2 separate regions of the Homo sapiens genome follow, and region 2 is linked to region 1. The links come from fine-mapping of genetic effects on gene expression. A gene starts in region 1. The other region holds a variant in brackets. All regions are shown on one strand. Distances are between the middles of the regions.

Evidence for each region. PIP is the estimated chance that this variant, and not a neighbour inherited with it, causes the effect.
Region 2: its variant is fine-mapped to the expression of DIP2C-AS2 in prefrontal cortex (GTEx, PIP above 0.99). The same link has a PIP of 0.9 or more in putamen.

What each region holds. Positions count from the first base shown.
Region 1 is chr10:626,069-630,455 of GRCh38, reverse strand. DIP2C-AS2 (DIP2C antisense RNA 2) reads right to left here and starts at 1,892. Exons shown (of 2, transcript NR_147612.1): 1 at 1,559-1,892; 2 at 1-597. The region is part of intron 1 of DIP2C (disco interacting protein 2 homolog C); the gene reads left to right. It overlaps LOC124902361, which reads left to right. Exons shown (of 1, transcript XM_047426106.1): 1 at 1-4,387. RefSeq lists enhancers at 358-1,317, 3,467-4,258, 4,259-4,387.
Region 2 is chr10:694,870-699,256 of GRCh38, reverse strand. No RefSeq gene overlaps it. Among named protein-coding and RNA genes, the nearest start is that of DIP2C, 7.4 kb to the right of the region's middle. The variant G/T (reference allele first, on the strand shown) is at 2,322.

The sequences.
Region 1 (4,387 bases):
CATAATGCCATGAATATGTTACCTTATTTTTTATAATTGCCAGTCTGTATAATTAACCTTTCATTTGGTTAAAGTACTTAACATTAAGTAGAGCTATAATTACAACTGTTTTTAAAAGTATATGGAAGAATGTTTAAATGTTTAATTAGAACCACTTTTTTTAGCTTCATAAAGAATTTTTTTTACTTGTCAACAAGGATCTTTAATTATTTAAACCAAAAGAGCAGAACAGACCAGAAAAGAAAAACAACTAGTCAAGCTGGGAACTGCAATGGTGGCGTCGTTCCGTGAGTCTCGGGTTTTGCTTCTTGGGTTTGTGGTCAGAGTCCTTACCTTTGATTTCCTAACACAGGTTGTTAGAGTTGGAAGTGAGTGTGGAGATGAGTTAATCCGACTTTATTCTTTCACGGATGAGAAAGCGAATTATCTTCAGCAAGGTGGGTGCAGGTGTGGCCCCCGGGGGACACTGTGGGGAATAGGCCGCCCTCGTGGGGAGCCAAGTTCGTCGTCTCCGGGACAGAGCCCAGGACACTTCCACGGCTGGCTGGCCTCTTCCTAGAACCCCACACATTGCAAAGGATGGAGTCCAGATCTATACTGTAAAGAAATGAGGGCAGTTACAGAAAGCACCACATTCTCGGCTGAGTGGCTCTGGGCACCCCAACGTTGGGACACCTCAGCATCATGTATGGCGATCCTCAGGCTGTGCCCAGCAGTGAGGCTGGGCCTGATCAAGGCTGCGGTCTCCACCCTGAGAGCGAGGGCTTCCTTCCCCCAGCGCGGGTTAAAGCAGTGAGGCCGGGCCTGATTGAAGCTGCGGTCTCCACCCTGACAGCTTGAGCTTCCTTCCCCCAGTACGGGTTAAAGCAGTGAGGCTGGGCCTGCTGGAGGCTGTGGTCTCCACTCTGAGAGTGAGGGCTTCCTTCCCCCAGTGTGGGTTAAAGCACCATGTGTCCACCTATGCAGTGGCTGGTCCCAGTGTGCCCTGAGGGGCAGAAACCCTGGGTCCTGCCGCTGGTCTGGGGTATCTACTTCCCATTCCTGCAGTTCCTGGGAGTGTCTGTGTGTCCAGGGGGCTCCGATCCCTGCCTCAGGACCACGGGTGAGGGGTCAAGATCGCCCGCTTTGGAGTTGGCCCGGATCTTGGTTCTGTGTGGCTCTGGAGCAGTTTTGTCCTCAGGAGAGGGATCCTCACAGCCGCCTCTTGGGACCATGAGGAGAATTAATAGGATGACCCCCAGGTAGCTACCGTAGCCCTGTGCAGGGCCAACCGTGTGTCTCCACCGCCAGTTCCTTCCGTCTGTGCTCCCACCAACTGTCACATCACCAGCCTTTATTTTCTTTTTCTTAGACCCAGACAGCGAGTGCCCCACTGGCCTCGGCAGCCCCTTCTCTAACTTGTCCTCAAATCAGTTCCTCACGGACAGCCCTGACCAGCCATTGGCATGACCAAAACCCCACCAAATAGAACCCAACTTTCCTATTAAGCTGTGCAGAGCAGTCCCAGCCCCACTTCCCACAGGCTGACCTCATTCGCCATGGGATCCGTGGTTCTCACCTGGGGCTGGGGGTGCCCCTGGCATCTGGTGGGGAGTGTCAGGGATGCCCTTCCAGGTCCAGGATAGTCCCCCAGCTGGTGGCCGACAGACAGCAGCACACAGCCTGATGTCCCTGTGGCTTCCGGTTCCCCGAGGCCAGCTGTGCTTTGCTGCCTCTTCATCTTCTCAGACGGGTGCCCTCTCTCCACCTTCGCTGGTTAGCAATGTTCATCCATTAGAGCTCAAAGCACTGCCTGCTGGCAGCACAGCCCCTTCTCCTGGCCCTCCGTCCGCCTGTGCCCCACGGTCTGTGCCGTGTCCCCGCCTTCCGCCTGTGCCGCATGGTCTGTGCCATGTCCCCGCAGGCCCATCAGAGCGAGGCTCCCAGGGACAGAGCGTTTCCTGTTTGTGTCTCTGTCCCACCCTCTCTGGACCTGGCATGATGCCCGTTGCCAACAGAGGTCTTGGGTTGATTGTCACCAAAGCAGATAATCTATATGGCTGTAAATGGCTGTAAACATGCTTGATTGGGGTATTTTTTAAGTAATTGGATATGTAAACATTTGAATGTGACACAGGTGGATTTTTGGGCCAATGGTCTCGTTCTTCAGGGAATAACCACAGGCCCATCCACAAGGACCATTTCTGGCTGATTTATGGAACACTGTTCTACCTGGTTAATTTTGGACGTTATCTCAGCCTGAGAGGTAGGTCAGCAATGTGACGAAGAGCACTGGTTTGAATCCTAATCTGCTACTTAGAAGCTGCATATTTTCCTGCCACGTTCTGTGCCTCAGTTTCTTGCTTGGTTAGGTAGGAAAGGTATGAGCTACCTCAGAGTGGTGAGTGAGGCCTGCATCGAGTGTCCGCATTAAAGTGCCGAAAACTGGACCCAGAGTGTTGATATTTAAAGACCTTTAAACATTCCGATGCTGCATTTTAGTACCCCGGTAAAACAGCAAAGTCGTTACAGATGCAGACACAGACCCTGGGTGAGGTGGGGGACTGATGGTGGGAGGTGGGTCACCAACCCCGTAATGAGGGCGTGGTCTGTTCGAGGCTGAATGAAGTGCACGTCTTCACGTGTACCACGGTGGTGCCTCTCGTGAAGTCCTGTAAGCGTCCACGTGGCTGAGCCGTGCGGTCTGTTTGTGACGTCTGGCAGGAGCAGAGCTTTTGGGCGCAGCCTCGCTCTTGCGTGCACGGCCCTCAACGATCTCAAAAGTCTGAGGCTTAAAGCAGGCTTGGGGTTTCCCTTACACCTCCCGGACATCTAATTTGCCTGGCAAACATGTTATTCTTGGGTGTAAAGGTGAAGGAGTGGGTGACTCTGGTGAAAGTGTACTAATTACTGCACTTCTGGGTCAGTGGCGCTCGGTTGAAGACACTGTCTGCCCTGGGTGGACATCTCTGGTGTGGTGAGAACCGGCGGCTGGATGTCGCGAGGTTGCCAAGAAGATGCCCGCTTTTTCCTTTTTCCTCAGTAACAAAACCCTACTTTGTTTAGGGAAGCAGCGAACCCAGCTGAAAATCCAGTTCTCTTGTACGGCAGAGCGGCTGGTGACACAGGTCCAGATGCTGGGATGCTGATGGGGGGTTTTGGAGAGGGAGGTGTCGGGAGGGTTTCCCGACCCACAGCAGCCCTGGGCCCTTGTCCGGCCTTCTTGCCCGGGGCATGACGCCTGGAGGGAAAGCAGCTTCGGGGGCCTGAGGGCCACAAGGCAGAGTCCTGGTGTGTGGGGCAGGCCTGGGCCAGGCTCCTTGGAGGATGTTACAGAGCCACTGCGTGTGCGGGGACCACCCATCTCTGAGCCCCACGCGGATTTTCCTCCATAGCCGAGCGAAATCCTGGTACGGCGAGCGAGGCAGTCAGAGGCACCTTTTGTGGAAGGAGGACAAAGCTGGAGGGAAGGAGGTTTTCCTAAAAGGCACAAGGCACTGATACTGCGTTAGGAGTAATTCCTAGGAGCGTGGTAGCTGGTGGGTGGAAAACTGTAGCCAAAGAATAAATGGGAATGGCCCTTCTTGGTATTTAACTGATTCGTTCACGAATGGTCCAAACAGTTGTAGTGAAAAAAACATTTTGGACACCGATGTTTTCATCCTGCCTGACGATCGGCGTGACCGTGGGGTGTTCCATCCTTCCTGGGCAACAGTGAGAGGGCCTGACAATCGGCGTGACCGTGGGGTGTTCCATCCTTCCTGGGCAACAGTGAGAGGGGCTCAGGCCCTTCTGGCCCCATGCAGGCATTTCCCCAGGGTGTGTCCCCCGTCCTGAATAGGCCGGAATGCCTCTGGGTGCAGCTGAGCCTCTTGAAAAGGGAAGAGTCATGTGACATGCTCTCGGTGAACAGGAAAATGAGGGAGGACAAGGAGAGGGGCCTGGAGGTGAGGAGGATGGTGACCAACACCAGGGATGGGATGGAGGGTAACCCCGGGGACGGGGGACGGAGGGTAACTCCGGGGACGGGGGGACGGAGGGTAACACCGAGGATGGGGGATGGAGGGTAACACCACTTCTCCAGGTGCCTTTGGGGGATGCTGCCGCCCCTCCCACCCCAGAGTGAAGTCAACAGGATTCTGTCCCCAGGAGCCCCAGAGCCTGGCAGCTGGGATTGGCCCAGTATGAACCACTGTTCACTGGCTCTGCACCCTGGGACAGGCTCCCTGGTGTTTCCGCCCCAGTTTCCCATCTGGACAGTGAGACCCTGACTGTCCCCGTCACAGGTGCACATGGAGGCCTGGACTCTAGCATGTCATCGGCACTCGTTAGTGTCAGCCCTCGTTAGCGTTTCTTTTGTCGTGGTCCATGGACGAAGTGGATCTTGCTTTGTGTGTTCACAGACCTC
Region 2 (4,387 bases), 69 kb before region 1:
GGATGCGGTGATGAGCTGCCAAATGCCAAGCACTGCAGAGCTCCCAGGAGCTGGAAAGATGGGAAGGATCTACCCCTCCAGGAGTCAGGGAGAGCAGGGCCCTGCTGACAGCTGGATCTCAGACGTCCAGCCCCAGGACTGAGACAAGACCTTTCTGGGGTTTTGTTTTTCCTTTTATTGATTAATTGACTGATTGACAGGGTCTCCTTCTGTCACCAAAACTGGAGCGCAGTGGCACAATCATAGATTACTGCAATCTCAAACTCCGGGGCCAAGGTAGTCCTCAGCCTCCTGAGTAGCTGGGACCACAGGCACGCCACCACGCCTGGCTAATTGTTTTCATGTTAATCTTTTGTAGAGATGAAATCTTTCTGTGTTGCCCAGGCTGGTCTCAAGGGATCTGCCCTCCTTGGCCTCCCAAAGTGCTGGGATTACAGGCATGAGCCAGCGTGCCTGGCTGATGTCTGTTGCTTAAAGTCACCCAGTTTGTGGCACTTAGCTATGGCTGCCCCAGGAATCTGATACAATGTCTAATTTCCAATTTTTAGTATATATGCTGCTGAAGCGAGCACAGTATCTAATTTCCACAGCAATGTTTAAAAACAGCATTTTGGGCTGGGCGTGGTGGCTCACGCCCGTAATCCCAGGACTTTGGGAGGCCAAGGCGGGCACATCGCTTGAGGTCAGGAGTTTGAGACCAGCCTGGCCAAAGTGGTGAAACCCCGTCTCTACTAAAAAATACAAAAATTAGCCGGGTGTGGTGGCACACGCCTGTAGTCCCAGCTACTCAGGAGGCTGAGGCAAAAGAATCGCTTGAACCCAGGAGGCGAAGGTTGCAGTGAGCCGAGATCGTGCTATTGCACTCCAGCCTGGGCGACACAGTGGGACACTGTCTCAAAAACAAAACAACAAAAAAACCTACAGCATTTTGCATCCCTATTGTTTAAAAAAAATCTGATTTATCATATCTTAAAAATCATGAGTTCAACTCTATTTCTGTCTGCATTTGTCTTTTGCTTCATCCATCTCTTCCCCTGTTGCTAACACGGATCTTTCTCCGTGAGAGCACACCCTCTGTGTTCCTATCCCTTGTCTGTCCTTCCCTCCGTTCCTGACCTCTTTCTTTCCACCCTCGAATCTTTTTCTTTCTCTCTTTCCTGTGCTTCAGAGTATTTTCATCTAACGTTCTGCGGAGGCCCATGGTTGGAGGGAGTGACAGCCGCGCCTTCCCGTGAAGGGAATGGAGTAGGTGCCACACAATGGGCGTGCCCACCGGAGACCCGAGCAAGAGTGAATGATTTTCAAATTAACCTCCTCGTTCTTCACCTTCCTCAGGAACACGCTACTCATGGTACTTGCTAAATTCTGCTTTGCTCTCCTGTGAGTTTTTTGCACAACTACTTTTTCCTGGGGTCTAAACTCCTTGAGAAACCACGTGCAGCCCTTGGTGAGGCTGGAAAGGAGGATGCTAGAGGGGCTGCAGGAAGGGGTGCGTGGGTCTGAGCCTGCGGGGCTGGGGCAAGCTGTTACGGGGGCTGCAGGAAGGGGGACGTGCGTCTGAGCCTGCGGGGCTGGGGCAAGCTGCTTTGGGATAGGCGGTCTCCTCAGTGCCCTCCCCTGTAGCTGTGGGGCGTCAGGGGGTGTCTGGTGCAAGTGCTTTGGCCAAGACTCTGTGACTGTCTGCCTGGCCACGCTTTCCCATCTGGGGTCAGATTCCCGAGGAGCCTGTGCGTGCGGAAACCTTGGCTTTGGCGTTGCATGAAGGCCCCGCGGGGAAATGTCCTCAGTGAGCATCCAGAGAGGCGTTCCAGGAACGGGGATCCAGGGCCCCGTGTGCCCGTTTCTCTCTGAGCCAGGGCAGGGTGAGGAGTGGGGAAGGAAACCGGAGCCTGGTCAGGCTCACGGAAGCCGCGTGCAGAGCGTGACAACCTGCCAAGATCCCCCACGCCCACACCGGAGGTCTGACCACCAGAGGGAAACCACCAGCCGGGCAGCACCTGGGGCGGGGGAGATGAGCAGCTGGTCTGGGAGAGGCCCTGGCCATGCACTTCGAGGGCTGAGTGACACAAGGTCCCCATGGGCAGGGGAAGGGTTTTGAATCAGATCTTTTGGACAATCCATGGTTCCTTATAAACTAACCTCTCCTGGCTAAAAAGGCCTGACTTTCCAGGGGTGTCCACCGGCTTCTGTTTCCTTTTGTGTCTGTCGCTGGGACTACAGGCCCTACACGTGTGTAAGCTCCTGAGCCACGTCCTAGGACTGTAGGACCTACCTGAGTGTAAGCTCCTGACCCACGTCCTGGGACTAGGCCCTACCTGAGT[G/T]TAAGCTCCTAAGCCACGTCCTAGGACTACCGGCCCTGCATGCATGTAAGCTCTTGAGCCACATCCTAGGACTACAGGCCCTACACGTGTAAGCTCCTGAGCCACGTCCTAGGACTACCGGCCCTACACGTGAAAGCTCCTGAGCCACGTCCTAGGACTACCGGCCCTGCATGCATGTAAGCTCTTGAGCCATGTCCTAGGACTACAGGCCCTACACGTGTAAGCTCCTGAGACACGTCCTAGGACTGTAGGCCCTACCTGAGTGTAAGCTCCTAAGCCACGTCCTAGGACTACTGGCCCTGCATGCATGTAAGCTCCTAAGCCACGTCCTAGGACTACTGGCCCTGCATGCATGTAAGCTCCTCAGCCACATCCTAGGACTACAGGCCCTGCATGCCTGTAAGCTCCTGAGCCACGTCCTAAGACTACAGGCCCTGCATGTGTGTAAGCTCCTGAGCCACGTCCTATATGACATCCAGCACATGGCTTGGCAAAGGATGCTGTCTAAAATTCTTCATGAGTCCACACAAAGCAAATGGAGTCATAAAAATAAAACAAAAAAGAGTAACGTAGAAAATAAACCAAAAAACCCTGAATCATGTACATCCGATGTTCTCCTCAAAGATCACACAGGACCCTCACCCTTTGAGACGCCGTCTGCCCAGACACACTGCTTGCTAGATATGAGGAGCTGTGGGTCCCCAGAGATCACACAAGATCCTCACCCTCTCAGATGCCGTACACCCGGACGCACTGCCTGTTGGATGTGAGCAGCTGCGGGTCCCCAGAAATCACAAGGGACCCTCACCTGCGAGTTCAGAGATCACACAGGACCCTCACCCTCTGAGATGCCGTCCACCTGGACGCACTGCTTGGTGGATGTGAGCAGCTGTGGGTCCCCAGAGATCATACAGGATCCTCACCTGCGGGTCCCCAGAGATCACACAGGATCCTCACCCGCGGGTCCCCAGACATCATGCAGGACCCTCACCCTCTGAGATGCCATCCGCCTGGACGCACTGCTCGCTGGATATGAGGAGCTGTGGGTCCCCAGAGGTCACACAGGATCCTCACCTGTGGGTCCCCAGAGATCATGGGGGATCCTCACCCTCTGAGACGCCATCTGCCCGGACACACTGCTTGGTGGATGTGAGCCTGCGGGTTCCTGGTTTCTGCCCAGCTGACATGTGGTGGTTCTCAGCGAGGCTGCTCGGGCGCTGTAGGCTGGGTGCCCCATCCTCCAGCGGCTGTCATGTGGCCATGGGTGGGTCACAGCCACGCGTGTTCCCAGTGTGATGAGCCGATGGGTGGGCTGCTCTCTGCCCACACCCGGCTGGCCCAGGCCGTTGTCTTGCCCTGAGGACTGGCCCTGTGGTGTCCTGAGTGGCAGGGCCAAGGGCTCTGCTTCTTCCTGTGCTGAGGTGGTCACCCCGTGACAGGTTCTGTCTGCAGCGCACACCCTCCAGGAGGCACCTGCCCCCCAGCCCCTGCCTCAGGCCCCGCTTCCTGGAGCCCAGCCTAAGACATCGGTGGCCAGGACGGCAAGGACCTGAGACACAGTGCCAGCCACAGCAGCACTCCTGCCTGAGTGGGGTCTGGATGTTCCGGGAGGGCCCTTGTCTCAGACTCCCCCAGACCTTTCTCGACAAATGAAGCTTCAACCTCTGGTTTGCCAGGTGATGGTTAGGCAGCCTGGTCTCACAGCTGCTGGACTCCCTGGATCACTGTGGCCTCAGTGTGGACAGTGGAGCCTCACGACCCTCTCTGTTTTTCTTTGCTTTTGTCAGGTGTGGGTGTGAGATGGCCCAGACTTGGGCCACAGCCACAAGCTTCTGTGACTCACGCAACTCAAGAGCACTGTAGTGGGGTCTCACCGCAGAAGCCATCTGGGAATGCTCTTGACTTGGGGTGTGTGCGTGTTTTCCCATTTTGAAGAATAAGGTCAATTTTAAAATTTTCTGACACTTTCTCGCTTTGCCAATTTTTGATGGCAAAATTTTAGTCTCCAGCCTCTCCTTTCTACTTCAGAAGCTTGTGTGTTGCTTGTCTCAGCTGTTAGTGGATAT